Regions from separate parts of the Homo sapiens genome. Here regions 1, 2, 4, 5, 6 and 7 are each reported to be linked to region 3. The links are microRNA targets in miRTarBase. Many come from high-throughput screens and were not tested one by one. Region 3 holds a microRNA gene; each other region holds the end of a gene's coding sequence. Distances are between the middles of the regions.
Evidence for each region. The annotated mature microRNA hsa-miR-4786-3p reads UGAAGCCAGCUCUGGUCUGGGC and lies in region 3 at 1,591-1,612, shown strand. An mRNA with a match to its seed (bases 2 to 7 or 8) in the 3' UTR can be bound and repressed. Matches are read on the target gene's strand: a 7mer-m8 pairs with bases 2 to 8, a 7mer-A1 pairs with bases 2 to 7 and ends in A, and an 8mer does both.

Region 1: the mRNA of GARIN3 is a reported target of hsa-miR-4786-3p. Seed matches in the 3' UTR shown: 7mer-m8 at 3,346-3,352.
Region 2: the mRNA of ZNF207 is a reported target of hsa-miR-4786-3p. Seed matches in the 3' UTR shown: 7mer-A1 at 3,377-3,383, 7mer-m8 at 3,247-3,253 and 8mer at 1,462-1,469.
Region 4: miRTarBase lists TMEM201 as a target of hsa-miR-4786-3p. The part of its 3' UTR that is shown has no 7-base or 8-base seed match.
Region 5: the mRNA of ANKRD26 is a reported target of hsa-miR-4786-3p. Seed matches in the 3' UTR shown: 7mer-m8 at 3,254-3,260.
Region 6: the mRNA of FAM83H is a reported target of hsa-miR-4786-3p. Seed matches in the 3' UTR shown: 7mer-A1 at 1,554-1,560.
Region 7: the mRNA of VMA22 is a reported target of hsa-miR-4786-3p. The part of its 3' UTR that is shown has no 7-base or 8-base seed match.

The regions. Positions count from the first base shown.
Region 1 is chr5:157,158,928-157,163,004 of GRCh38, forward strand. GARIN3 (golgi associated RAB2 interactor family member 3) reads right to left here. Exons shown (of 2, transcript NM_130899.3): 2 at 2,919-4,077. The coding sequence ends at 3,520. Among named protein-coding and RNA genes, the nearest start is that of GARIN3, 5.3 kb to the right of the region's middle.
Region 2 is chr17:32,369,159-32,373,226 of GRCh38, reverse strand. It overlaps ZNF207 (zinc finger protein 207), which reads right to left. Exons shown (of 12, transcript NM_001098507.2): 11 at 3,773-3,932; 12 at 1-3,628. The coding sequence ends at 3,468. Among named protein-coding and RNA genes, the nearest start is that of ZNF207, 21 kb to the right of the region's middle.
Region 3 is chr2:239,940,558-239,944,634 of GRCh38, reverse strand. MIR4786 (microRNA 4786) reads left to right here and starts at 1,541; the gene lies at 1,541-1,620. It also overlaps a transcript of NDUFA10 not described here.
Region 4 is chr1:9,612,739-9,616,738 of GRCh38, forward strand. TMEM201 (transmembrane protein 201) reads left to right here. Exons shown (of 11, transcript NM_001130924.3): 11 at 248-2,139. The coding sequence ends at 345. It overlaps LOC124903837, which reads left to right and starts at 1,926. Exons shown (of 2, transcript XM_047436734.1): 1 at 1,926-2,734. The coding sequence starts at 1,926. RefSeq lists enhancers at 2,687-3,231, 3,241-3,300.
Region 5 is chr10:27,002,183-27,006,259 of GRCh38, forward strand. ANKRD26 (ankyrin repeat domain containing 26) reads right to left here. Exons shown (of 34, transcript NM_014915.3): 34 at 1,934-3,541. The coding sequence ends at 3,408. Among named protein-coding and RNA genes, the nearest start is that of FAM238C, 62 kb to the left of the region's middle.
Region 6 is chr8:143,722,612-143,726,688 of GRCh38, reverse strand. FAM83H (family with sequence similarity 83 member H) reads left to right here. Exons shown (of 5, transcript NM_198488.5): 5 at 1-2,756. The coding sequence ends at 768. Among named protein-coding and RNA genes, the nearest start is that of MAPK15, 8.3 kb to the right of the region's middle. RefSeq lists an enhancer at 3,065-3,566.
Region 7 is chr2:130,335,464-130,339,540 of GRCh38, forward strand. VMA22 (vacuolar ATPase assembly factor VMA22) reads right to left here. Exons shown (of 5, transcript NM_032357.4): 5 at 2,470-3,769. The coding sequence ends at 3,657. TRE-TTC1-1 (tRNA-Glu (anticodon TTC) 1-1) reads right to left here and starts at 1,736; the gene lies at 1,665-1,736. RefSeq lists an enhancer at 1,464-1,523.

The sequences.
Region 1 (4,077 bases), not on the chromosome of region 3:
CAGCCATGAGCCACAGCACCCAGCCATCACATGGACATTTCTAATGGGAACATGTCTTTCAAAACATCTCCTGTAATCTCATTTTATAGATCCTGCAGCAAAAGACAGGAATTACATAAGGACACATATTAACAACTACCTTCCCAAATATTTTTTTCTCACAGCAACTACAGTGACCTTTACAAAATACAAATCTGATCAAGTCACTCCTCAACTTAAAATGTTTCAGTGGCTTCTCATTACTAAGGACAGAAGTCAAAGTAGCATATGCGAACCTCAAAGCCTTGCACAGTCTGTCCCCTGCTGCTCCCTCTAGCATCTCGCCTTCCGTTCTTGCCCTGCCAGCCATGATGGCATTTGACATTTTGAGGCACCTTGCTTCTTCTCACCATAGACCAGTTTCCTCTGCTTCAAAGACTCCACCCTAACATGACAACTGCATGAGTGATCTTATACTGCTTTTGGCAAAATATCGCTTTGTCATCTTTGTTCTTATGTGTGTAATGCCAGACTTTAAGTTTGGAACATTGGTTAGTAATCGACCATCCACTGTCTCATTGCACTTGCAGCAGCAGAATTGTTACCATGGTGACAAATATTGCCGTTAAAAATATTGGCTTTTATCTGATAGGGGTATTGACTTGATGCCCCAATTGATAACTCCCTCTGAGGAAGAGGCCTGTTGCTTTGAAATACATAGGTATTTATGCATCTATCTCTTGATGAAGTATCAAGATAGAAAAGGAAATGCAGAGAAAGTGCATGGCACAGCACGCTGTGGTGGGCAAGTCCCCATCTCTACTTTACTTAAATTGCATTTGGGTGGATAAACTATATTCATGCTGAAGAAGCCCTCAGACAGGGGAGGGTGTATAAAACAAGACTAGAAGAAAGACAAAAGATAAAGCCATAGTCTACACAATTATGAGATTAAACCGTTTGTAGCTAGGATAATTCAGACTCTGGCATAGCTGTAAACCTGGAACTCCAGACCAAAGGCTTTGAAAGGAGTTTCCTTTTATCTCTCTCCTCTACCCCACCTGCCAACCTTTCACATTCCCGGGTGGCTTTCCCAAAGGCCCTCTCAGACTTTAGAGTATGTGCCTCTCTCTCTTTCTCTCTCCTTCTACCTGTACCCACTGTTTCAAGAGTCAACTCCCAGAACATCTTAATCTCAGCCTCTATGGTATTTATCAAAAATCACAAGATGAGATTTTCCAGCCACCCACTAGAGCAACTGAGAAGGGATTCCCCTGATACTGACAAGCCACCGCTCCTCCCAGAATACGTCGCTTCTCACCTCCTCCATCTTGGCTACACATATTTGGTGTTCAGAAAAGGTCCCTAAGTTTTGCCGGAAACCCAACTTCTGTCCTCCAAGGTACTGCTGCTGCAGAGAATGAGCAAAGACTTGCAAGGCTGGGCAGGTGCTCCCCTCCTGGACTTACATGGCTCCCAGAATCATTTTTCTCAAATCCAAATTTTATTATTTGGTGTTAATAATTTAATGTTTTCCATGGACTCATTTTACAGGTTTTTTAAAAACGGAAAGACAATTTTTTTTTACAGTAAAGGTTTTTAAAATTTATAATCCCATTTCTAATGTAGTGTGATTTTTTTATTCTGGGAATTAACTTGCACACGAACACATAATTTACATCATGTTAGTACACAGCATTTTGGACTATTTTACTTCTTAATATATTTAAACATTTTTCCGTGTTTCTGAATACTTTTTATGTCACTTAGAATTTTTATTTCATGCTTATTGAAAGATCTTTCAGACTTAGATATTCTGTCATAAATCTGTCATGTGTATGTGTAAAAAGGAAAACATTGGTGAAATAAATTGATTAGGGCATTTCTAAGGCAGTGATAGTGACATGCAATTGACACCTTGCTGACAGATTTAAAAACAATCCTGATTTCAGAGATATTAAAATAAAGATACAGTAACAACACCCCATGAATACAACCTCTTCTTTAAGAAATAGAATAATCACTATTCTGTTGAAACTCCTTGTGTGTGCCCCTCAGATCAGACATCTCTCCCTTTATCCTATAGATAGTCACTATCCTTAATTTTGTGATTATCATTTCCTTGTTTTTCTCTATACTTTTAGCAAATATATATCCCATTGTTGAATCTTATTTTTGAGCTGTTCTACAAATTGAACTATATCATATATATTTTTGTGACTTGCTTTTAGTATCCCACATTATGTAAGATTTATCCATGCCAGCCACACATGGTGGCTCATGCCTGTGATCCCAGCACTTTGGGAGGCCGAGGAGGACGGATTGCTTGAGGTCAAGAATTCGAGACCAGCCTGGCCAACATGGCAAAACCTTGTCTCTAGTAAAAATACAAAAATTTAGCTGGGCATGGTGGTGCATGCCTGTAATCCCAGCTACTCCGGAGGTTGAGGCATGAGAATTACTGGAGCCTGGGCAGCCAAGGTTGCAGTGAGCCAAGATTATCCCACTGCACTCCAGCCTGGGCAACAAACTGAGACTCTGTCTCAAAAAAATAAAAAATAAACATTTATCAATGCTAACATGTATAGCTGCTATTCATTTTCACTATTGTAGATTATGCACTGTAGTCCATTCCACAATTTATTAACTCTCCTGTTTGATGAACATTTGGGCAATTTCCAGGGTTTTGCTATTACAACTTGTTTTACTGTAAACATTCTCCTAGTTGTCTACTGGTAAGCATATGTGAGAATTTCTCCACTGTCTACACCTTGGAGGAAGACTTGTTAAGATTAGATCAAGAGTCAGCACACATTTTCTTAAAGGCCCAGATAATATTTTAGATTCTGTGGGCCATATGGTCTCCATTGCCACTACTCAGAGCTGTCATTTTTAGCGTGAAAGCAGCCATAGGCAATATGCAAAGGAAAGTCTGTGACTATGTTCCAATAAAACTTTATTTACAAATCCAGGCAGCTGGTAAGATTTGGACCTCAGAACATGATTTGCCAATTCCTGATCTAGAAGAATAGATTTCCTATTCTAATTGCCTACAAATACTGCTGTATTGCTCCTTCCTACCCTGAATATCCCCTGAGGGGATGTGAATCCTGTCTCTGCATAGGCTAAGAACTGGACTGAATGTCCATGTTCAGGGGCATTCAGGGAAAAGAGGAGAATGGGCGAGGGGACATGGTGGTGGCCATGCATCCCAGCTCTTAGTCTGTGGCTTTGACAGTCTCGGGGAAGCAAAAGGGATTGAGGCAAAGCTGAACACTCACGTTGGCTCTGCTGGCCGTGGGCGGGTGGTGGAGCTCTACTTGCCTGGAGGCTGGGGTCTCCAGCTGTAGCATAGCCACCATCACAGAAGCCACTGTGAGGTCACCACCAGGCTATGGGCAGAAAAATTCAAGCAGGAGATTGTATTTCTTTTGGAGTTGTACGATTTCCTTTATTATTTGAACTGCAGTAAAGAAAGCTGGGATGGGCTCCTCTAGGGATACTTCCAGATCCCTGGGCGGTTGTAGCCCTGGCTCCTCTTTAAATGGATTTGGTTTCAAAGACGATCATCTCCGTCTTCTCGGATGTCATAGTGCCACTGATCATCTCCAGCTCCTGGCCACCCTGGGCTTTCTCCACTTTGGCCTCTATGTTTTGCTTCTCCACCATCTTAGCCACGATATCTACCTCTCTGTCATGTGATGTGACCCTTGTTTTTGAACCAGGAGTGGCCCTGAGGCTCCTTAAAAAAGAGCTGATCTTACTGGCTTTCTTTTGTAAAGCTCCTGTGCTAGATGCAGATTGGTTCTTCCCCAGTTCCTGAGTTGTTCTCGACTCCTTTTTGGTGGAGCTGTGGGTGGAGCTCTTGCGAGAGGAGCCATGTCGCTTGCCCCTTACGTTGCTGTACCCTTTTTCTTTTTTGTCATCTCTCGTGTTTTTATGGCCAGATGCGGACCGGTGGGAAGACGCTTTCTGATTCTTGTCCCCCGCTCTCCTGCGGTGACTTTCACCTGCCTTGCGGTGATGAGAACTTTTCCTACTGGGATGTCTGTCCTTCTTTTCTCTTCTTTCCTTGTTTTCATTCCAGACTTCAGCACT
Region 2 (4,068 bases), not on the chromosome of region 3:
TGGGGAATCCCCCTCCCCAATTAATTAAGTTTAATTAAGGTGAGTCTAAGTTCAAAATGTAACTTAGTGGAATAGGAGTACAGTAGGAATATTTTATTCATACCTAATGGCAAATGTGTGAGACACTACTAAAATACTAAGTATTCAAATCAAGTAATTCCAGCAGCCACTCAAAAATTAATCCTTACCTGCTGTGGTCTTGTTAAACAGTATGAAAACTTATACAACAGAAACTAGTGCCAGACAAAATGTTTTCTTGTTTTTCTAAAAGGGGTGGATGTAAGGTAGAGCCAAAGTTGCCAGCCCTACTAACCTTACAGCTTCCTTAATTATGACAATCACAATGCCTGCCTGAATTATCAAGTCCCAAAAGTTGTCTTCTGTGAGGGCAGTTGGCATCCACTTTGACTCAACTTCATCTACTACTTAAGGAAGGTTGAGTCAGAGTTAATTATATGAATATAATTTGCTCCACTCATAATTCAACCACACTATGGACCCCAGAAGCATTTAGAAAAAAGGTATTTTCTAGAAGCTTAATTACGTTTGGATGCATGCAAAAATTACACTTCAAATATATTAAATGGGTACACCACCTCTGAGCCTATAGCTACAAACTCAGGAACTCATGAGCTTAAGTTTTATCTGCCAATGCCTAACACTTTCAATTAATTTTTAATTAGAATTCTATCCCATATTTAAAAGTTCCATTTTTGCCCATCAGACCTATACAGAGAGCAAAAAACCTTGCTACAAAGTATCAACCTTCTTTGCATAAAATGCAAATAAAGCTTCACATAATTTCTGAAACAGGTCTACTAACCCTATTGCAGTTTGTCAATAACCGTATACATGAAATTCCTGAGAATTTGGGAGAGCACCCCTTACTTAATTATTCTAAATTTAATCACAGCATTTTTTTTTTTTGAGACGGAGTCTCAATCTGTCGTCCAGGCTAGAGTGCAGTGGTGTGATCTCCGCTCACTGCAAGCTATGCCTCCCGGGTTCACGCCATTCTCCTGCCTCGGTCTCCAGAGTAGTTGGGACTACAGGCATCCGCAACTACGCCCAGCTAATTTTTTGTATTTTTAGTAGAAACGGGGTTTCACCGTGTTAGCCAGGATGGTCTCCATCTCCTGACCTCATGATCCACCCGCCTGGGCCTCCCAAAGTGCTGGGATTACAGGCGTGAGCCACTGCGCCCGGCCTATCACACCATTTTTATCTTAAAGACTTTCAACACAAGTTTTCCTTCAGCAGTATATTAAGTGTGCTGCCAAATCAAAGCAGCATGTATTAATTTTGAAACCATTTAGGTAAGCAGAGGTTCAGAGGGGAAAGTGGTTTGGGACTTGGCTGCTGGCAGAAAGAAATACATTACTGGCAAAATACCTGTTTTATTTTCAAACTATGAAAATTTTTGTACCACTATGGTACCACAAGCACAGGAGCCAAAATCATTGAAGCCAGATAATCAGATATTTTAATTTATTTTTTGACAGAGTCTCGCTCTGTTGCCCAGGCTGGAGTGAACATAGCTCACCGCAGCCTCGGAAGGAGGAAGAACCTCCTTCCTCAGCCTCTTGAGCAGCTGGGACCACAGACACACACTAACGCGCCTGGCTAATTTTTAAATGTTTTGTACAGATGGGGTTTTGCCATGTTGGCCAGGCTGGTCTCAAACTCCTGGACTCAAGCAATCCTCCCATCTCAGCCTTCCAGAGGGCTGGGATTACAGGCGTGAGCCACTGCACCCAGCCAATGTGAGTTAAAATAGCATTCAGCTTTATAATACTTGCAATGTTTTGCTTAAAGGTATGACTTTCATCTGTCACATAAATACGAACTCTTTTGTGATGGCTAAATCACTTTTCAATATATTTTCCTTCAAAGTTAAAGCCCTTTTTTCCATACAACTTCAGACTTCATGTGTTTTATCTATACCTTCACAGGAAAGTTATAAAGAAATGTTACCATTTTCTTAGAAGTCTTAACTTTATAATGAGAAAAACTCAACTTGAGTTCATTATATTAATACTTTGCATAGGTTATTTGATGCCTAAAAAATCATAAAACTACCCTGCAAAAGATCAGAAAAACAGATCCCAAAAAGGTCAACAAGAGCTATTATTTTAAGAGGTTGCAACACAAAATATTGAATAGCAGTCATCTCTACAGAAAAGCTCTCTGTAAGAACACAACATTCAAAATTTCCAAGGATAAATAAAAAGTTGCACAGTAAGGCTACCTAGGCTTAATAACAGAAGGTACTCAAATGAATAATGTAATCTTCCAGGAACATAATAAAAATTGCCAATTCATCTGTTAACCATCCCAACAGAGACACATTTAGATTCTCAGCATTACACTTAGAATAATATATAATAACCCATTAACAGCACAAGAAGCTATTACTGCATGCACCTAAGCTTCTAGAAGTTTGCACCTGAAAAGCTTCTGAGGTCCATGCAGTACTGAGTCTCAAAAATAATCAAAAGGAAATGAATGGGTCTGGCACTAGGCTCTAAACATCTCAGCAGGAAGGAAAAGTGTTAACATTTACATTTTAAGTATCTATGACACGTGATGTGTACTGACACCATAGAGGGTGGAAGGGTGATTATAAAGATTTCATACCCATTATGTAATGACTCATGTATCTTAAGTTTTTCTCTTAACTGAAACATTAACATACAACTCTATGCAAATTCAGTTTAAAACATGCAGCTAAGAAATAACCTACAACTCAAAGACAGAATCCAATGATATATCAAAACTGCATTGGTAACTATGAATTTTATTATGTGGACATCTACTGTGGCATGCATCTGTACAAACCTTTCAGGCAGTGGTCCACAGCTGGGTTATGAATAAAAAGGCATAAATTTTTCTCTCATTTTATTACAATGAAGTTTAACAGTACAGAAAAGTCACATGACCTTGGTGGGTCAGATTTCTTAAACCCTGCAACATGAGGAACTCTAAATACATTAAATATTGTTACACATTCAGACTTCCAATGTACAAGTACTTGGAAACAGTTACAGCCCTCACCAAGCTAGGTTGGGGACATGAAGTCCAACAGCATCTGAAATGCTGTGAAGGCAAACTTTACAAATAGCAATGTAAGCTTACAGAACTTGCCTTTACTAGGGTGGTATGTTCATGTAATTCCAGCGCCTTCACAATTTAACGAACCAAATTTACTATACTTCACTTCTAAAAACCTAGATGAAACATGAAAAAGAAGCCATACAGTATAAATTGCAACTTCAGGAAAAGTTCCTGCTTTATTATTCCAAATAATTTTTCCCATGTAAAATAAATGTCCAATAGTTCCTGGTATGTGGGAAGATAATGTTTGTTAAAGTCACAATGAAGCCTTATTGACGGAAGCTTGGCTATATAAACAGCACAAGTTGAGAAAAGGTTTAATCTCCAAACCTATTAGACTGGATGAAGTAAGATCAGTAACGGCCACCTTGCGACATTACAGGAGGTCTCATTCCCATCGGAGGTCGAGGAGGCCCACCCTGGTAAGGGGGCACCATTGGCGGTCCCTGCCCATACGGGGGCATAGCACCAGGAAGGTATCCTGGCATGCCTTGATGATGACCACCATACTGACCTAAAATCAAGAATTTCAAACACAAAAAAATAGATTGTTAACGCATTGTACTTTTAAGTGCAACGTATGCTGCAGATAAATTTAATATTTTATGCGTGAACTTAGAAAATCCACTAAATATGAAAAACATAAAAAGAGGAATACCATGAGGTGGCATTGGGGGTCTCATTCCTTGTTGCTGTGGGATGCCTGGCTGTGGTGGCATCATACCTCCAATTGGTCCAACTGGTGGATTACCGATGGGGGCCTGTCCTGGCCGAGGAAGATTACGTTGATACTTAGGTAACTGTGCCCTTCTCTCTTCCTGGGAATAAAAATAAGCGCAGGGCTAAATACTCGAATGCAGAGGCTCACCAAGCATAAAGGCATGCATCTAAAATCTTACAACGTTAAGAGTAATTTTCAAAAATTTACCCTTACATCCCAACTATTTACTTTTG
Region 3 (4,077 bases):
GTTTTTGTCGGTTCTGAGTCATTTTTCTTGATCCGCGCTGCCAGTTCCATGAAGAAAATCACTTTCAAACAGATGTGGAGGAAAGTGCACCTCCTCACTTGTCCAGACCCGGCCTGAATTCACATGGAAAGGTAATCATTTCCCGCCATGAGCTCACTGAGAGTCTGACAGCACTGTGAGGGGAGGTGGCCAGCCAGGCACCCAGCCTGAGCCGTGACCAGAGGTCCGAGCCAGAGATGCAGCCTTGGGATCTCAGCCTGCGGCGCTGGCCCTGGGGCCACACTCAGCATGGGGGACGCCAGGCTGGAGCAGACGCCAGACCCAAACAGCCGCTCTGCCCCCGGGGACTTTGGCAAGGCTGCTGCCTACGTGAAATGATGGAAAGGTCTAGGCTGGCCCCAGGTCCTTTCTGGCATGGCCTCAGGATCTTGGCAGGAGGATAACAATGCCAGGAGGGGGTGGGCTGAGTCATGTGCCTCCTCTCAGGGGCCTGGCTGCAGTGGTCAGGGGCAGGGTGGCTCATTTTGCGGGCACCGGTGCCCTGCACCTGGAGGAGGACCAGCAACAGGACTAGCCAGGTGGCCGCAGGCCCTTAGGACACAGGGGAGGCCCAGGATTTATGGGAAGGAAGGAGCAGAGCACCTGAGTCTGGGGACATCTCGGGACAGGCACTGCCCCCAGCAGCCTCAGCTTCCCCCCATAAAAGGGACAGACGCTGCCCCATGCCTTTAGCTCCATCACTGTCCAGGGACAGGGACTAAACCCTAGACCCCTCATCCCCAAGGAGTCTTGGACTGCAGGTCCAGCTCTGCAGAGGGGCTGCAGGGAGCATCCAGGGCCCATACTCGTCTGCTCATCTCTCAGTCTCTGTGTTTATGGAACACCAGGGGATGCCAGTGCTGTGCCAGGAGGGGCGGTCGGTGCTGAGTGAGGCCTGCTTCCCAAATCAGGCACATTCTTATGAGACTAAGATTTGTCCCTGCTCATGGACATTAAAAAAATGTCAAAGACAGCAGGATTAAGCGGAATCACAGTGTCCTGCCCCCAGTCCCTAACAGAATAGAAAGGAAAAACTAGAAAAATAATCCCAGCAGAAAACAAACAAGGCCATACACTTTGAAAATTTGTAGCCAAAGACCAGGTGTAGTGGCTCACGCCTGTAATCCCAACACTTTGGGAGGCTGAGGCGGGAGGATCACTTGAGCCCAGGAAATTGGGGCTGCAGTGAGCTCTGATTGCGCCACTGCACTCCATCCAGCCTGTGTGGCACTGTGAGACCCCATCTCAAAAAAAAAGAAAGAAAAATTAGTAGCCAATAAAATAAGCAAAAGATTTCAGAGTAGAGCAGAAGGCAGATTCGTGTGGCTCTGACCTGCCACCAAGCCTGAGTCCCACTGGTACACAAGCGGAGCCCCAGGCCGCCTCTGTGCTTGGGATCTGGAGACAGGGAGTCTTGCAATGCCTCTGGCAGACATGGGAAGATAACTGTGAGTTGAAACTCTCCGTAAGAAGTGGAGGCTCCAGGGATGCGTTGGCCTGTGGGCATGGCCTGAGACCAGGACTGGATGCACCACTCTCCCTGTGATGAGGTGAAGCCAGCTCTGGTCTGGGCCATTTCACAGGATTCCAGAAGCAGGAGCAGAGCCTCAGCATTTGAACGAACCTTCTTCCACTTCGGCTGAGCTCCTCCTGCCACCACCATCCTTGCAGGCTTCCCGAAGGTGGCCTGAACACAAACTGCCTGGGCTTCCTGTGGCTAAGAGGGGAAGACGAGCCTTTGCCAGGTTTTGTGGAAAGAGTTAAAACCCCTCCAGTGCTGTGTTAAAACATATGAGGACCCAGTCAGAGCTGCTCGGGCTTGAAGAGAATGGAAAGGCAGGGAAGGGGAGGGCAAGTGACAGGCAAACGTCCCACAGAGAAACCCGTGACTCAGTGCTGGAGAAGGGACCACAGCATGCGCAAGATAAACATGCGGAAGGCAGAGGACGCACAGCTCGTGAACAGAAAAAAAAAATATTCCTGTGCTTTGCCTAAGAGAACAGTTTGATAAGAACATGAATTCAATAAAATAAATGTCAACAACGTATAAGACTAAGAAATGAAAATAAGATGTCAGACCTCAGGAAGCAAACAGAACCGAAACAGTGTCAGAACCAAACCAATACATTTCAAACAGCAACAAACGACATAGCAAGGCTGAAATTGCTATTGACAGAAATCCATCGTTCTCCAAGTGTGGCTCCTGGACCAGCGGCCCCAGCCTCCACCTGGGAGCTTGTCGGAAATGCAGGTGTCTAGGCTGCACCCAGGCCTGCTGGCTCAGGCGCCCTGGTGGGTGGGCCCCAGCAGCATCTGTGTTTAGCAAGGTGATTGCAGCGCACACTACCGCGTGAACACCGCTGCCCTAGAGGAAAGGCTGAAGACAGCCACAGTAAGTAAAGGTAAACGTGGTAGAGGGATGAAAACTGTTGTGAACTTTGTATATGTAAAACTAATTTATAGGAAGGTGGACAAAGGCAGTCCGGCAAAAGAATCACTGGTGTTCAGACCAAAGTGATTCCAAGTGAAATAGTTTGTGCACACATGGTGTGATCTTTCAATATGCAGAATCCATTTGTTTTTCTCATTTCAGAGGATTTTAAAATCTAAGGTCCATACTGTTTTGGTGCAGAAAATTCACTAGTTTTACTTTCATTTGCTTATGTTGAAAACTGATATTAAAATAAATTAAATGTAATTTAAAATAGCATTGATAGATCCCATTTCATGAAAGCATACCTGTGTTTCTGTTGATATACAGGCATAAAAATATCAGGATGTTGTTCACTGATGTAGATGGTTTTTCTGAAGAGAGGAATTTGGAATTTTTTTTCCTTTCTTCCTTGAACCTTTTTTTCTTTTTTTTTTTTTGAGACAGAGTCTTACTCTGTTGCCCAGGCTGGAGTGCAGTGGTGCGATCTTGGCTCCCTGCAAGCTCCGCCTCTCAGGTTCAATCATTTTCCCACCTCAGCCTCCTGAGAAGCTGGGATTACAAACGTGCGCCATCATGCCCAGCTAATTTTTGTATTTTTAGTAGAGATGGAGTTTTACCATATTGGCCAGTCTGGTCTCCAACTCCCGACCTCAGGTGATCTGCCCGCCTTGGCCTTCCAAAGTGCTGGGATTATAGGTGTGAGCCACCACGTCCTTGAACTTTGTCGTTTTGATGTCGAGGAAGGAACCTCTGACACCGAGGGTGGAACAGCCGCAGTTCTGTGCCCCCGGTGCATTCACATCATCGGGCGTGGGAAGTGTCTGTCCCTGTTTGTGAAGATACTTTACCCTATGTGCCACTCCCATTGCCCTTGTCCAGGGAGGCCAGCATTCCCTGTGCTTGAGAGATCTTTTTGTTTGCATATGTTCTGACATAATGTGTTGTTTCGTGTGTTTGCATTTTTAAGGAACGTAAATGGTTATGGGTCATACGTCTATTGCCTGTGTGTTTTCACTCAACACTGCCTCTGTAAGCTCCTTCCTTGTTGCCGTGGGTGCATCTGGCTTGCCTGTTTCTGCACCTTGTAGTGACCTTGCTGCTGTCCAGTTTCGCTTACCCTTCCTGGGTGGTGGGTACCCAGACGGCCTGCAGTGCTGCAGGAAGAACCTCACACATGGAGAAGAATATCTGTGGTTCACAGAAAACTGTGCATTGCCTAGAGGACACTCCTCAAGGTTATTGGATTCTACTCTGTCATCATTTAGAACTATCTTATAACTCTGTTCCTTGTAGGTCACTGATAGCAGTACAAAAGAATTCATATAGACGGGAATGTTCTGTGCTGTATAGTGGAAATCCAGTGAATACCTCCCATCCCCAGGAGAGAGCCCGGTTTGCCTTCACTTGCATATTGATTTAAATATCTCTGATCTCTAAGTGTGGCTATTCTTTGGATTCTGTTTTGAACTGGTGATAACATCTGTCTGATACCTTCCTTGATAAGTGAATAGACTAAATTTCAAATGTGTTCCTTTTTATATTTCTATGAGAGTCATGATTTTACTTTTTTTCTGAAAATTAGCTTTTAACACACATATCTCCTT
Region 4 (4,000 bases), not on the chromosome of region 3:
GCCCATGGCCTTCCTGGCGGCTCAGGGTTAGGAAAAGCTGTGCCTTCAGGGAGGCAGGGAGTGGGGGTCTTTCCTGCTAGGGAAGCCTTTGGCCAAGAGAAGAATTGGGGGTGAGCCTCACCAGTCTCAGAGAGTACCCTGGGCAGAGCCTTGAGCTCCCCACAAACTGCATGCTCTAGGGGGCTGCTCAGCTGCACAGCGAACCCACCCACCCAAACAATGTTCTGACCAGGTCTCTGCTTTGCAGGTCGTTTCGGCCCTTCCCTGGTCCGGGGCCTCCTGGCCGTGAGCTTGGCCGCCAACGCCCTGTTCACCTCGGTGTTTCTGTACCAGAGCCTGCGCTGACCCACCGTTGGAGCCCCTCGGAGGGGAGCAACCCGGTGCCTGCTGCTTCACCACTGCCGGCCTCAGGACCCTCCCTGGAGGGGCTGCCACCTCTGCCCTCATCTCCAGGGCCTTGACCTCACTGGACTGTGACTGTCCTCAGGACACCTGCCCCTCCTCACCTAACGGACTGCAGGGCTGAGCATGTGTCTGAGGTCACACTCTCTGCCCACTCACCTCCTTGGCTGACATCGGTTGTGTTTGGTGCTGACACTCTGATCCCGAAGCCAGGGAGCCCCAAGGGGCTGCATGACCCTGGGGTGCCCCACACAGTTCAGCCCTGCCTGGCAGGGACGCCAGTACTACTGTAACTGCAGCAGGAGCTGCCCGGCCTGCCTTCTGGCCCCACGCCCACAGGCGTAGTCACATCTTTGTACTGTACTCCCCTGTCTCACCTGGGGCAACCTCAGAGCCCCACTAAGCTGAAGGCCCCCTGGGGGAGGGGGAAGCATGGTCCTTATCATCTGCCCTATCTTGCCCCTTCCTGTGGAGTGGGCAGAAGGGCTCCCGGGATCCTCAGAGCTCCCAGGTCTGAGCAGCCAAAGGCCCAGCTGGGCCTCCAGGACCAGCGCGAGCCCCTGCCCCACCCTCCCCTGCCCCATGTGCCCTGCTTTGTGACCTCTGTTGACCTTCCTGGAAGCAGCCCCATTACCCTGAGAATGCGGAGCGCCCTGGCCCACCTCGCCCTGTGTTTCCAGGCCTGCACGTCTGGTCCTTCAGCTGCACATGGAACTGCAGGGCAGGCTGGCGGGGGGCCTTCAGATCTCAGATGAGACTGCACCCCTTCGACCACCCTACTGGGCACCTGCCTCCAGCCCCTGAGAACTCCATCTTCCCCTAGTTCTGCCCAGGAGCCCCTGAGAACCCCATCTTCCCCTGGTTCTCTTGCCCACTCCCCTGCTGGGGCTCCTTCCTGGCACTGAGGAGGGGCGCTCCCAATGCTGTGAGGCAGCGGGGAGGGACCGTGCACCCGTGGCTATCAGAGCCCCTCCGCTGTCCCACCCTGGGCCTGGGACACGGGCCTGGGGCAGTGTGTGTCTGCTGGTCATGTGCTGGTGCCAGTTGGGGAGGAATCAGCTGTCTCGGTGGATTCTGAGACTCACTGTGGGGCGGGAAGAAGGGTCTTCACTCTGCCATTCAGGGATAAAGTTTAATTTTATTTTTCTACACATTTTGCCAGGTCAGGCATTTTGCTAGTAAGCAGGATGCCCCCAACTCTCCCTGCCATGGAGGATTCTTTTTTTTAAGCTTTGGGTGCTTTTTTAATACTTTTTTTTTTAATGTGGGGAAGGAGCTTGCTCTGACGTCACCCTCCTCTCCCCTGACTCCTGTCCTGAGAGCTGTGGATGCCGCCTCCTGCCCTGCCTACCCCTGAAACGTGGGGAATGGGGGCCCCAGGACAGCATCAGGACTTTTGAGTCCAGCTGCCAGCAATGGTTCCAACTCGGAGGCAGCGCCTCTTGGTCCCCATTTCTGTATAGCAGGCGTGTGTGTGTGTGTCGAGGTTTTTTATTTTTTGCTTAATCAAACTCCATTCCCAAATGCACTCCATCTCTGGCTCTGAGGGCGCTCCCTCCTCTCAGCCGGGCAGCCTGGCCTCTCCTGCCCAGACCTGCGGTCCCAGCATCCCCCAGAGCCAGGGAACAGGCCCAGCGGGAGGGGGTTTTATGTTTTGTTTCAAACAGAAAACACAACCTTATTTTTCTTTACAAAAGCAAAAAAGGAAACCAAAAAAGATACAGCCTTTGAATGATGCCTGCTGGCTGTCTGTATTCGTTTGCTTGGGCAGCTCGGGCCTTCCAGGTAGGGCAGGGTCCCTGCTAAGGGGGCTCTCATCCACTTTCTCTTTCCTCTTCAACGGGGGGTTCTGGAGTGGGGGGCTCGGGTTGGGGTGGCCACAGTGTGACCAGACAGTGTCCCTGGAGGGGCTTAGGGATTTGGACAGGAGACTCGCTGCCTGGCTGAGCCTGGGCCGGAAGGACACCCCAGAGTTTGCTGCGCAGAGAAGGGTGTCCAGGCAGGAAATGCTCAGCTCAGCTCTTCAGAAAAGCCTGAGCCCACCAGCCATCCCTGACCGTCCTTGCCCCTGGCTGCAGGGACCACGGTCAGGTTGTGAAAAAGACCTCGTCTTCCTCAGAGAGGGCTTAGAGCTGCTGCACGGCTCCATGCTGAGGCGGCGGGGATGGGGAATGGCCAGGGTGTCACAGCACAAGCTCTGGGGTCACCTTTCTGGTGACTGGGATCTGCATTTCTGTTGGCTTCAGTTTGACACGGGAGTAACAGGACGGCCATCCGGGGCTGATATGGGGACCCTTAAGCCACAGCACAACGCAGAGGGAGCTCTACCAAGGTGGGCTGTCATTCTGGCCCAGTGCCCAGCGGGCAGGAGGACCACAGCCAGTGAGCAGGGGGACCGGCTCCCAGGGGCCGGCAGGACCAACCTGAACCAGACCCTGAGGGCAGATGAGGGTGCAGGGCTGGGACGGCTTCCCATCAGGAGCTTCCTGCAGCGGGAGCCACAAACGCCTCTGAGCTCACTGACCTCGGGTCCTCAAGATGTTGGGAACATCATGTTTAAACCTGAGGCTCAGGCTTCCAGCAGCCCATTCAGCTCCTACCCCGGCCTGGCGAGGAGAGGCCAAGTGAGGGCAGCAGAGAGCCAAGCGCCCTCAGCTGTGAGGTTCTCCCCAACTTGGGAGCAACAGTAGTAACGCCATCTATGGTTTTCTTATCAAAAGGTAACACATTTATGTAGAAAACCTAGAAATAGAAGTGAGCAAAAAAGAAAATGCCTCATAATCCTGGCATTAAGATATTGGCATCTCTTCTTTGTGGTGGTTTTGTTTGAGACAGGGTCTCGCTGTCCCCCAGGCTGGAGTGCAGTGATGCAATCATAGCTCACTGCAGCCTCAACCTCAGGGGCTCAAACATTCCTCCTGCCTCAGCCCTCCCAGTAGCTGGGAATACAGGTGCACACCACCACACGCAGCTAATTTTTGTTGTATTTTTTGTAGAGAAGAGGTTTCACCATGTTGCCCAGGCTGGTTTCGAACTCCTGAGCTCAAGCAATCCACCCACCTCAGCCTCCCAAAGTCCTGGGATTATAGGTATGAGCCACTGTGCCTGGCCAGAATCTTCAGTAGAATAATTCACCTCTGAAGGATTATCCCAAGGGCCCACTGCAGTAGCTCATGCCTGTAATCCCAGCACTTTGAGAGGCCAAGGCAGGAGGATTTCTTGAGCCCAGGAGTTCAACAGCAGCCTGGGTAATACAGTGTAAACTCGTCTCTGCAAAAACAAGAAAATTAGCTGGGGCCGGGCACAGTGGCTCACACCTGTAATCCCAGCACTTTGGGAGGCCGAGGCGGGTGGATCATGAGGTCAGGAGATCGAGACCATCCTGGCTAACAGGGTGAAACCGCGTCTCTACTAAAAATACAAAAAATTAGCTGGGCGTGGTGGCGGGCGCCTGTAGTCCCAGCTACTCGGGAGGCTGAGGCAGGAGAATGGCGTGAACCTGGGAGGCGGAGCTTGCAGTGAGCCGAGATGGCGCCACTGCACTCCAGCCTGGGCGACAGAGCGAGACTCCGTCTCAAAAAAAAAAAAAAAAAGCTGG
Region 5 (4,077 bases), not on the chromosome of region 3:
AAGGCAACCTGATAAAGGGTGCTGGAGTCCAAGGGGGAGTGGGAAGCACAGCTGCTTAGGGGCCGGGACACAAGAGACTGGTTACACACAAGAGGATTGAACAAATCAGTAAATACAGCAGATTCTTGAACAACATCATTTCATTGTCATGCTGAGGAGAGAAAGAATTCCCAACTGGGGCCCCATCTGGGTGGAGTTTGCACGTTCTCCCCTTGTCTGCGTGGGTTTCCTCCAGGTATTCTGGTTTCCTCCTACATCCCAAAGCTGGGCATGTTAGGTTATCTGATGTGCTGACGTCATGACATGGTCCCAGTTAGAGTGAGGGTGGGTGTATGTGAGTGGCCCTGCAATGGGATATGTCCTGTCCAGGGCTGGTTCCCACCCTGCACCCTTAAGTGCAGGAGAGGCTCTGACCATGTGTGACCCTGAACTGGGATAAGCAGGTTAAGAAAGGAATGAATGAATGCAAATTACTATAAAATAAAATGTTGTAGGGTCTATGGTCATAACACAAATGCTGTGGTACACAATTATGTGGTATGAAAGTGCTCCATGAGCCTGCCATATTTGTGACTATTTTTGAACACAAAAATAGTGTTCAAATAGCTGCATGATGGCAGCAGGTGCTCCTGACAATTTTTTCACTTTGCAACATTTATTCCTTGATTTAACACAGCACCACCACTACAACCACTATCACTCACTGACGCACCCAAAATTGGGTAGTATCTTAATTTTTTAAATTAATCTTTCCTAATATATGTAGAGCTCACATTTATTTCAATGTTTAGTATTCATGTTTTGGGGTCTTTACTTAGAAGATTAGTGATGTTTTTGTGACCAACAATATGTCATAGGAACGTTATGTTTTATTTGTATCATTTAGCCTATGCCAAATTGGTTCTGTTATATGTCATTTCACTTACAGTCAGATTCCAAAGCCTATCGACGGCATTAAATGAGTACTTAATATATATTCAGGATGAAGGGAGCCAGGTTGCTGTCAGAAAAGGAAGTTAAAAATACAGTTGACCCTTGAAGTGCTCAAAGAATAAGGGGGACAGGTCAGAAGGACACAAAGTCAGCTTGAAATGGCTACTACTGGCCAAGTCCAGGGGGCATCTGAACACCAAATTAGTAAGCTTTCCCTTCTCCCCCTATTTGTTCACTGATTTTGTTCTATTTATCAATATAGAAGGGATGAAGGAATAAGAAAGTCATCATTTGGCAACCATCATAATAATAATTGATTCAAGCACAAATCACCAATGAAATGCTTTATCTTGTGGGTGAAGTTCTGAGTAGTAGCCAGATATTTACAAAGCCTCAAAGTATCTTTATACAAGATATTTATGAAATACAAAGTATATAGTAGCTTAACCATGGACAAACATGGCAGGATGTTGACTTTGATTATTTCAACAAATCAAATAATCAAAGTCAACATTGGCCAGTAATGGAAGTGAGTGACAGCAGATGCCTCCAGATGCTGCATTGCAGAGAACTCAGCCTGTGTGAAAGCCCCGCCCGAATGGCACAACCTAAAGCTAATCATGAGGAAACACTGTACAAACCAAAATGGAGAGAACGCCTACAAAACAGCTGACCTATACTCTCCAAAAACATAAATGTCATTACAATCAAAGAAAGACTCAGGAACTATCCCAGATAAAAGGAGACTATAGAAACGGAACAATTGGACCAACACATCACACCTGGTGAAAATCCCCCATCTTGAATTTTCCTCGGCTATCAAGGATATTTTGGAGACAATTGGCAAAATCTGCGTAAGGTCTATAGATTAGATATTAACATTGAACCAGTGTTAATATCCTGATTTTGACCATTATACTACAGTTATGTAAGGTAATTCCTTTTATTTAGGAAATACACATTATTTAGAAATAAAGAGGCATCGTGTCTGCAACCTACAAACAGTTTAGAAAAAAAATCTGTATTAAGTACCTATATTCATATTCATCTAGAAAGACAGGAGGAGAAGGGGGAGAAAGGATAAAGTAAATGCAGTAAAATGTTAACATTTGGGGAATAATATCCAAAAATTATTTGTACTACCTCTTATAATCTTTCTGTAAGTCTGAAGTTGTCAAAATATAACATTTCTTAAAAGAAAAACAAATTTTTAATAACAATATTAATGAATTATAACTCACTGAATAAAATAAACCATGAATCCATGGTTTATTTGATACAAGCAAATGAATAAATTGAGGGTTCGATGGGGAGTAGAGATATGTACATAGTCTCAAATTACCTCCCTGTAAAATACTAATTAACCACAAGGTGAAAAAATAACATTACAGAGGAGAAATTCAGCAGATACCACTGTTAGTGATCAATGCTAACATTACCAGTAACAGGGCAAATCAAAACTGTAGGGTCACAGGTAAGATGCAATGAGAAGATCACTGGGTCACTTCTGTGATACTCCTGCCAAAAAATCATATAATCTAAATCTAATCACCATGAAACCCAATTGAGGGACATTCTTATATTACCAGACTTTACTCTTCAAAATATTCAAGGTCATGAAGGTCAAGGAAAGACTGAGGAACTGTTCCAGACTGAAAGATCTAACAGATACAACAACTAAATACAAGCCATGGATTAGAATGGGATCCTTTTGCTATAAAGGACATTACAGAGAAGTAACAAACTAGAATGTATTAATGTTGACTTTCTGATTGCAAGGTTTGCACTGTAGTTATGTAGAATGTCCTGACTTGTAGGAATGCCCACTAAAGTAATCAGGGGTGATGACATAATGTCAGCAATTTACTCTCAAATTGTTCGGAGGAGAAAGTCTTTGTACTAAAACTTCGAAATTTTCTCTAAACTGAAGGCTATTTCCAAAAGGTTAATTAAAAATAAATAAACAAACAGAAAAGGTGAATCAGGCAAATCTTGTTTCTCCCTGAGAACAGCTATATAAATCAGTGCTTAAAATTAAAATTATGTAAATTTGATGGCACTGTAACAATTGTAATACATCCAAACATGAACAATGACCACAGTTCCTGCACAACAAAATGATGTCTAAGTCCAATTAGACATCTACCACTACATATAGTGATAAAAATTACAAAATACAAATAAGCCATCAATTAACTGCACTAAAGTATTAATGACAACTTAGTGGTTTGGCTGTTTAAACAGCTCACATTTGGGCAGTTTGAGTATGTAAAACTCAATATTCCTGGTTTTCATTGGCAAAATCCACTTAAAAGTTAAAGAAGCCAAGTAACATTGTTTAAAATACTATATAAATTTTGATCTGACATATATGATACAAAAATACGTTCCTTTAATATTTTTACATGTCATATATTAATATTTAATGAGAAACAAAATGTCACATAAACAGCCCAGTAATAAAATCTTATCTTTCAGATCATATAATTTTTCTTTAAAACCTGTACATATTCTCTTGATGCTTTCCAAACTAGATCTTGATTTAGATTTGACTCATCAGTAGACCCTAGAGGGGAAGCTATTGATCCAGATTCCAATTCAGCAGCAGCTAGAATGAAAAAGAAAGAATTATATTCCTTACCTAAAAGATTTCATAGTTAACTAAGTGGAAGTCAGTAAAAGAGTTGAGAATTTTGTCAGTATTAATAAGAAAGAAAAATATGTATGCACAACTATTATACAATATTACTATTAAATATAATTTGCCCATGGTTGCACACTGAATTAATTATCCTTGTGGTTAAATATCAGAGCTTCTGGCTTTCTCACTCTTCATTCATTTATTCAACAACCATGAGCAAAGTAAGCACTAGAATTACAAGATGAAGATGATATGATCCACCTCTAACAAACATATGCTATAATCTGAAAAAAACAGACAAACATACAATTTCCATACAAAGTCACAGATATCATGACAGGTATAAGACAGGGCACTACTGGAACACACAGAAGGGACACCTATCCCAGTTCTGAGTCAATAACGTAGGCTTTTTGATGGAGGCAATATGTAGACTGATACCTGAAGTACAAGGAAAACATATGCCAGACGGAAGGAAGAAGCAAATGCCAAGAGCTGGAGCT
Region 6 (4,077 bases), not on the chromosome of region 3:
AGTCCGGTGCCCCCCGTGCCGGAGCGCAGGGGCAGCCTCACCCTTACCATCTCCGGGGAGTCCCCGAAGGCCGGGCCCGCGGAGGAGGGGCCGAGCGGCCCCATGGAAGTCCTGCGCAAAGGCTCCTTGCGTCTTAGGCAGCTGCTGAGCCCCAAGGGCGAGCGGCGCATGGAGGATGAGGGTGGCTTCCCAGTGCCGCAGGAGAACGGCCAACCCGAGAGCCCGCGGCGTCTGTCACTGGGCCAGGGTGACAGCACGGAGGCTGCCACAGAAGAGCGGGGTCCGCGGGCGCGCCTGTCCTCAGCCACGGCCAACGCCTTGTACAGCAGCAACCTTCGGGATGACACGAAGGCCATTCTGGAGCAGATCAGTGCCCACGGCCAGAAGCACCGTGCGGTCCCTGCCCCGAGCCCCGGCCCGACCCACAACAGCCCCGAGCTAGGCCGTCCACCGGCTGCTGGCGTCCTGGCCCCAGATATGTCCGACAAGGACAAGTGTTCAGCCATCTTCCGCTCGGACAGCTTGGGGACCCAGGGCCGGCTGAGCCGCACGCTGCCAGCCAGCGCGGAGGAGCGCGATCGGCTGCTGCGCCGCATGGAGAGCATGCGCAAGGAGAAGCGCGTGTACAGCCGCTTCGAGGTCTTCTGCAAGAAAGAGGAGGCCAGCAGCCCTGGGGCAGGGGAAGGCCCCGCGGAGGAGGGCACCAGGGACAGCAAGGTGGGCAAGTTCGTGCCCAAGATCCTGGGCACGTTCAAAAGCAAGAAGTGAGTCTTCTGGCCTGGCAACCCAGGCCAGGGTGCCCGCATCGCTGCCCCGGTCATCCAGAAGCCCCGCGGAACAGAGAGCCCTGCTCATCTGCTTGAGCAGCGGCTGTCAGGCCACGGCCGCTTGGGGCTTGGCTGAGTGCGCCAGACCTCGGCTCCACTGGAGGCTCACCTGGCAGCTGCCGTCTCTGCCCCCTGGCCTCCCCAACGCTGGGGCTGCACCCCTCGCCACCAGTGCCTTTCTCCCCTCAGCACCTTCATCTCTGCACCGTCAGCCTTGCGTGGCGCAGCGTCTGGCTCCGCCATCTCTTTGTGCCTCAGTCCCCCCCGCCCCCTTTATTTTTTTGAGACCTAGGGCTGGAGTGCAGTTGAGCGGTCTGGGCTCACTGCAACCTCTGCCTCCCGGGTTCCAGCGATTCTCCTGCCTCAGCCTCCTGAGTAGCTGGGATTACAGATGTATGCTACCACGCCCAGGTAGTTTTTGTATTTTTAGTAGAGACAGGGTTTCACTATGTTGGCCAGGCTGGTCTCCAACTCCTGGCCTCAAATGATCAGCCCGCTTCAGCCTCCCAAAGTGGGGGGATTACAGGCGTGAGCCTTGCACCCCGCTAAGTCCCCTATCCTCTTGCAAGGGTCTCGCCTCTGTGCCTCAATTCCTCATTCTCTGGGCCCTTCTCCTCCTCAGGGCCTCCTGTTCTCAGGGCCTCCCCCCTCCCCGCTCCCTCCCTCTCTCAAGGTCTCCTCCTTCCCTCCCCCCCCCCCCCCCCCGTCTCCCCCCTCCCCCGCCTGGGCTTCACTTCCTTTCCTACTTGGATTCTCCTGCTCGCTGCCTCCCAGCATCTTTTTTGGAGGCCCGTCTCTTGCTGTGGGGAAGACTGGGCTGGCTGCGGGCAGTTTGCAAGGGGTGGGTGGGGCAGGGGGGGGGGAGCTGGACCAGAAGATGCCCCTTGGAGTGGCAAGGAAGCTGGACAGGGCAGGCCTCTGGGGACGGGACACAGGGAAGCCCGAAGGGGCGCCTTGGCCAGGTCTGCCATCTCCTCCAGCGAGGCTCTGGCCAGCACTGGGTGAGAGTGGGGAGGGGGCATTGGCCTTTGCAGCACAGTAAAACATGGTCCAGACAACCTGTGGCCCCGGCCTCATGAGCACCCCCTGCACAGGCCCGGCCCAAGCCAGGCGCTAGAAGGGCTGGTTGTGGAGTGCTTATCCTTGACAGGTATGGGGCCAGGTGAGGGCAGGGGACAAGGTGCAGCTGAGGCCGAGCCCAACTAGGTCCTGGGCACCCCTGCAGGTGGGAGTGGTCCTTGTCCTCCTGGTATCCAGCAGACACCCCCCTCTCCCCACCAGCCCCATTCTCAGGTCCTTTCCTCTTTGTCACCAACACCAAGAATCTGTCCAGGGTTCTTGGCTTATCTTTTATCTCTTTTCACTCCTAGAGAGGAATTGCAATTGACTCAGAATGACACATTTTGGCACCACGTGTGTAGAAAGCCCCCACTGTTAGATGATAGCCTCGTGAAATTCATGTTTCTGTATTCTCCTATTTCTTTTCAAAAACTAATTTTTTTTTTAGTGTAATAAATCCTAAGAGGGAACTGATTTAAGAAACAAGGCCGCCAAACAAAGGCAGCAGTTCCGACTCCAGCAGCTGGGAAAGGAAGGAAAGTGACCCCACTTTCACTCCTGCACAGCCCACTGGTTACCAAAACCACCGTGCAAGTCGGGATGACAGCAGGGACTTCTGGCCAGGTGGGAAAGGTGCCTGGAAGCGGGATGCGCCTGTGCGTCTCTTGGCCATGATGTTCTTGTGGGCATGTTATTCTTGGTGCTGCCTGGGGTGTTGCTGAGCGGACAGGCTCTCCAGCTGGAGTCCATGGAGAGGCCAGAGGCTGGCGGCCCTGCCTGGGCCTTCGGAGCCTCCTGCCTGCACCCTCCACCTCTTCTAAACCATGATGTGGCACATTTTGGTGTTAATAAAACACAACACACAAAGTATTCTAGCATGTTCCCCAGTGTGTATAATCGCCCAGTTACATCCTGCAGCCTTTAACCACGTGGCCTCCCAGATTTCCCCTGTGGACCCACCACCCACCCCTGTGGGGGGCACTAAAGACCCCCCAGCTCCACTTCCAAGGCCCACCTTGGCCTCCCCAACTTCACGCTGCTCTCCTGTCCCTGTCCCCGATGCCCCCTGTGCAGGCACACTCCTGGGTGCCCACCTGCGATTCCCCACTCAGCAGCCCCACCACACACTGCCCAGCCTGAGGCCAAGCCTCCAACCCTGCAGCCCCGTGGCCTCTCTGCAGCTTCCTCTCCCACAGCCTCTCTGTCCTGCTTGTTCAGCACCCTGGGCCTGCGCCTTGGGCTTTTGAAGCTCAACAAGCACCTCCCTCGGCAGCCCCCTCAGGAAACAGCCCCTGGGCTGGGTCTCTGACTGGCTCACCGCTTCCTCGGGCCCTCCCGATCCCTCCTCCGCCTCCTCCAACCTTCTCCCAAACCCAGCCTCCCTTTCTGAGTCTCTTGCAGGTGCCTGGTCCAGCACCAGGGCAGCGCCAGCTCTCACCTTCTGCTCAGCTCCCCCACCCACATCTTGTCCTTCCCCGCCCTCCCCCATGGTGGCAATGGCTTCCACAACCCAGCAGCGCCCCTCTCCTGGCAGCCCAACACCGACCACAGCACAGGCCGCACCCTTCAAACTGTGAGCTCCTCCGGCCTATGAGCTTCCCAGACTGTGAGCCTGGCAGCCCAACTCCGCCACCGACAGCACAGGCCGCGCCCTTTAGACTGTGAGCTCCTCCAGCCTGTGAGCTTTCCAGCTGCCTCCTTGTGTTCCAACCCCAACCCATGGGCAGGTGCAGCTGAGGACACCTGGCACCCTAGGACACAGGTCTGTGCCCACAGGGCCCCTTTGATCTTTGCAGCCCTGCACAGCCCTGGCCTGAACTCACACCAGGGACCTTGCCTGGGGGTGACAAGAGGAGGTAACCCTGACCTCGCGAGATGTCTGTCTCCCACCCTCACCTACGGAGACCTGAAGACAGATCAGGTGCAGTGGCCATACTAGGGGGCGCAGGCTGCAGTCCCTGACAGCAGGGGGAGGGGTGTCCCCCTTCTCTCTCCCCTTCTCTCCTCTGGCTCAGAGTCACAAACATGGCCAGGGGGTGACCCTACATCCCTACCCCACAGGACCACCCTGGGGGGCAGCCTGGACCCTGAAGCCACAGCAGGTAAGGAAATGATGGACAAAGAACAAGAAGCTGCCCCAGGCAAACCTGGAGGGAAAAGCCCAGTGCTGGATGTGCAGTGGGCAGGGCCT
Region 7 (4,077 bases), 110 Mb from region 3:
TTCAGCTGCAATCCCTTGTTAATATATAGGAGCCCTAAGTGATGTGGCAGTAAGATGTGGGGACAGCAGGGAGTGGTCTATAAACCCATGATCAGGGCCCAGTCTTGTTGTGAACCAGTGGTCCCTAGGCTGTGCCACTCACAAGTGCTTCTCAGCTTTTTTTTAATGTGAGTTGGAAGACTAAAGCAGACTGGAGGTGGATATTTTCCTTCCCTTGGGTTGGGTAGGCTCTGGTAGTTGCTCTGACTTTAAGCCTTTGTTAAAGAGGACAGGACGTTATGTGTGCATTTCAAAGTGGTTACACTTTCCTCCCCTTGCCAGAAGCTCCAGCAGATTTTTCTCTGATTTTCACCCAAGAACAAGATAGAATTCCTGGAGCTAAAACCCATGAGACTGTGGGGGCCCCTTAAGGCTATGTCCCCAGCATCTTTTCTCTCTTATGCTTACATGCCCAGGCTCTAGCAGTTAGTCAGTTACCCTTTAAGTTTTCCTACAGGTTGCTGGCTGCAGCAGCAGCTTCTGTGCCTGGCAAGCTGTAGCTCTGTATTTGCCTTTCCTTCTCATTTTCAGGGGAGTGGTTTGCCACGTGACCTCAATTTTCTGAGGAATCGAAGAGTTGTTGATTTTCCAGTTCGTTCAGCTTTTTTCTTGTTGTAAGGATGGAAGTGATGATTTTGAAGCTCTTTATGTGCCAGAACAAAAATTTTCATTGGTATGCTTACTAGTGATAATTATAAAAAACAAAGGTATGAATGAATGAATGAATGAGTGTGGCAGTAATTGCTGAAGACATGACCTCAGCCTTACATACAATCTCCCTGGATTAATTGAGCAAGCCAAAAAACAATGTCTTTTTTAGTTAAGAGGTCTGACTCTGTAGCCCAGGTTGGAGGGTACTGGCATGACCTCGGCTCACTGCAGCCTCAACCTCCTGGGCTCAGGCGATCCTCCAGCCTCAGCCTCCTTAGTAGCTGGGACTGAAGCTGCCGCCTCACCCAGCTGGGTTCTCCTTTCCACCGGACATGTGTTTGTGTGCTGGCACGAAGGCATCATTGAAGTTTGAAGTTGGTTTTCTGCTGGGGGAGTGGAGTCAAGCCCGGACTGTCCCAGTGAGAAAACGGGAACCCTGACTACTGGACAAAACAAAGCAGCAGCAAGAGAGAAAGGTAAATTTTTCCAGAGTGCTATGCTCCCAGTAGACTTCCTAGGACTTCCTATCCCTGCCTTGCAGAGGCAGCTCACGGACCCGAGGTGGCTCCTGCCAACCTGAGCAAGTGCGCTGGAGCGTGATGGAGGCCAGTGGGGATCTGCCTTCTGCTGGGGGTTCCACAGCAACACATTTTGAATATTTTCAATGTTATCGGGCATTTCACTACTTCTAATATTCACATCTGCGATGTATATAGCATCTAATATACTCAGTAAGCTATTGATGGTCAAAACAACTAGCTAATGTCATGATGAAAATGGTCACTGCCATCAAAACACACAGCGATGGGGCCCGGATCTCCCTGGGCCTGTTTCTCCAAGTTCAAGTGAAGAGGAAATACCCAATCTGGCCTGGAGCGTTCTAGTGGCGAAAAGTCAAAGTTCTTCTGGCGAACATTTTCAAGTTGAAAGAAAAAAATATACACCCGCAAAAAAAAAAAAAAAAGCCACTTTTGTTCCCATACCGGGAGTCGAACCCGGGCCACCTGGGTGAAAACCAGGAATCCTAACCGCTAGACCATATGGGAACTGCTGAAAGGTGACGCCACCGTGTCTGTATACGTGACATGCGTCAGCTTCACCGCCAGCGCCTCCCAACTACCACTGCGCAGCACTGAGCTCCTGCTGTCCCTGTAGAAACTCGTATGACTGCAGCCGTGCCAGACTCGCTGCATGAACCCAGTCTCTCGACTTAGCCCTGGTGGGACAAGCCACTTCCCCACAGAAGCCAGAATCCCCTTTCCTGGCGGTCTCCCCAAGAGCTGGAGTTAGGGCAGAAGGTCAGGGCAGCAAGTTAAGGATGCTTTGCTAAAGATTTGCTGTCTTCATCCAACCCTATTTGCAGAGCCCATGGCCTCGCCCTGATAGGAGGATGGCCACCTGTGAGTCCAGCCCCAAGCCAGCAGTGGGAGGCACGTGCCCACCCCAGTGTCCGCCCACAATCAGCAGCGAAGGGCGTGCTCCACGGGGTCGCACCTCCTCCTGGAAGAATTTGTGGCCCCAGCAAAATTGACTTATTTTTTTCCTTACTTTGGCTTCAGAATCTCACTAACTGGAACCTTGTGGATAGGATCTTTGTTACAAAAGGCAACCTTTGGTGAGGTTTGGGGGCAGATACCCGTTTTTCCTGCAGTCACAGGGGTTCCATTTGAGTTCCCCCATTAGTCTTTTCCCTGGCAACTCAAGGTCAACAGGGCCAATAAACGACCCCTCAACCCAACGCGAATCTGCCATACAGGGATTATGTTAAAGTTCAAGAAGTAAAACAATGTGGTACTGGTGTATTGACAGTAATGTCCACGAAACAGAATGAAAACCCCCAAATTACATTAGGTTTACACTGGGAGTTAGCAAAACAAAAGGGCAGCATTAACCGACATACAGCACGTGGGAGGATGGTGGAAAAGCTGGACATGACTCACTGGACATTTCAACTGAAACCACAGAGGTTCTTGAAAATGCTGGAGAATTCCCTGATTGCCTTATCAGTTACAAACCCAAATTCAGAATCATGTGACAGCTGGATACATTCAACTGTACGTACAAATAATGATCAAAAAACACAAAAGTTGGGTAGTGGTTACCATAGCTTTTACTGTAGTTATTCATTAAGCTATTCAACTGTTCTGTGCAGTTTGATGTTTTATTTTACAATAAAAAGTCAAAAAAAATAAGCAAAAAGATAAACTGGAAAATAAGACTTACATCTCATATATATGGACAAAGGACCAATTACCTCCAAACATAAACAGCTCCTAGAAATTACTGCAAAGATCAACAACCCAGTAGAAAAATGAATGAAGTTCCCAGAACAGAAAACACAAGTGGCCCTTCAAAAAAATGAAGAGAGGCTCAGCCTCTTATGGTAAGACAAAGAGACAGGATTTTAAAAACCTAGGCCTCTTCCTAGAGTTCCCTTAAATATCTAGGCCAGATCATTTTTACTTCCTGGCTTAGACCCTGCCAAGGGCTGCCCAGCTACTCAGGTGTTTGTGTCCTTGTGGACTCAAGTCATATTGTCCTGATCTTTTGGCTGAGTACGGTTTTCTCCTCCAGCAAAGACAATTTGGAGGATGTACTAAGCATGAAGCGCTACTTCCTGGCCCCCATCTCTCTTCGCACAGTGTTCCATCATCCAGCCATGAAAGCACAGCTGAGTGATCCAAGAGGCAGTTCCAATTGTTGACTAACGTGTACCTGCCTATGTGAGTGTGTCCTATGGGAACTCAGGCCTTAGAATGGTTTCAAAGTAGTGGCTTTCAAAATTACTGTTTGCCTCTTCAAACTTCACACCTAAGGAAAATGGAAACATGCAGAGCAGGGACACAGAAGGGGCATTAGCTGGCGTGGGGTAGGGGCAAGAGCTAATTGTGAAGGAAGAAGGCCTGAGATCACGTAGCCATGTCGGAGAACAGCTGTGCTCGCTGCCCTGCCTCTTTGCGCGCATGTCAGGCAGCCCCAGGCTCCAGCTGCTTGAGTTTCTCTTGGAGTCCCCGGAGCTGGCTTCGACCCCAGTCAATGCGGTTCTGGAGGCTGGCTATGTCTGCGGCCAGCTGCAGGCCTGGAGGAAAGGAGAGAAGGTCACCATGGTATCTGTAGTGTAACACACGACCCAGGAGGATCTGGATATCCCCAGAAATTGGAAAGGCTTCAGGCCTCTCTGCCCCCCACACTTGTCCCAAAACATTCCAGGTACGGCCCTGCATTGGCTGCTCCAGAACCTCTGAGGCCTTACACCTCCTTCAGGTCTTTGCTAAAATGTCACCTCCTTAGACTTCCTGGACCCATTATATCACCCACCAGGAACTAAAAATTCACAGATAGTAATACCATTTCATGCCCTCATTTCCTTCCTTCCCCCATTATTAC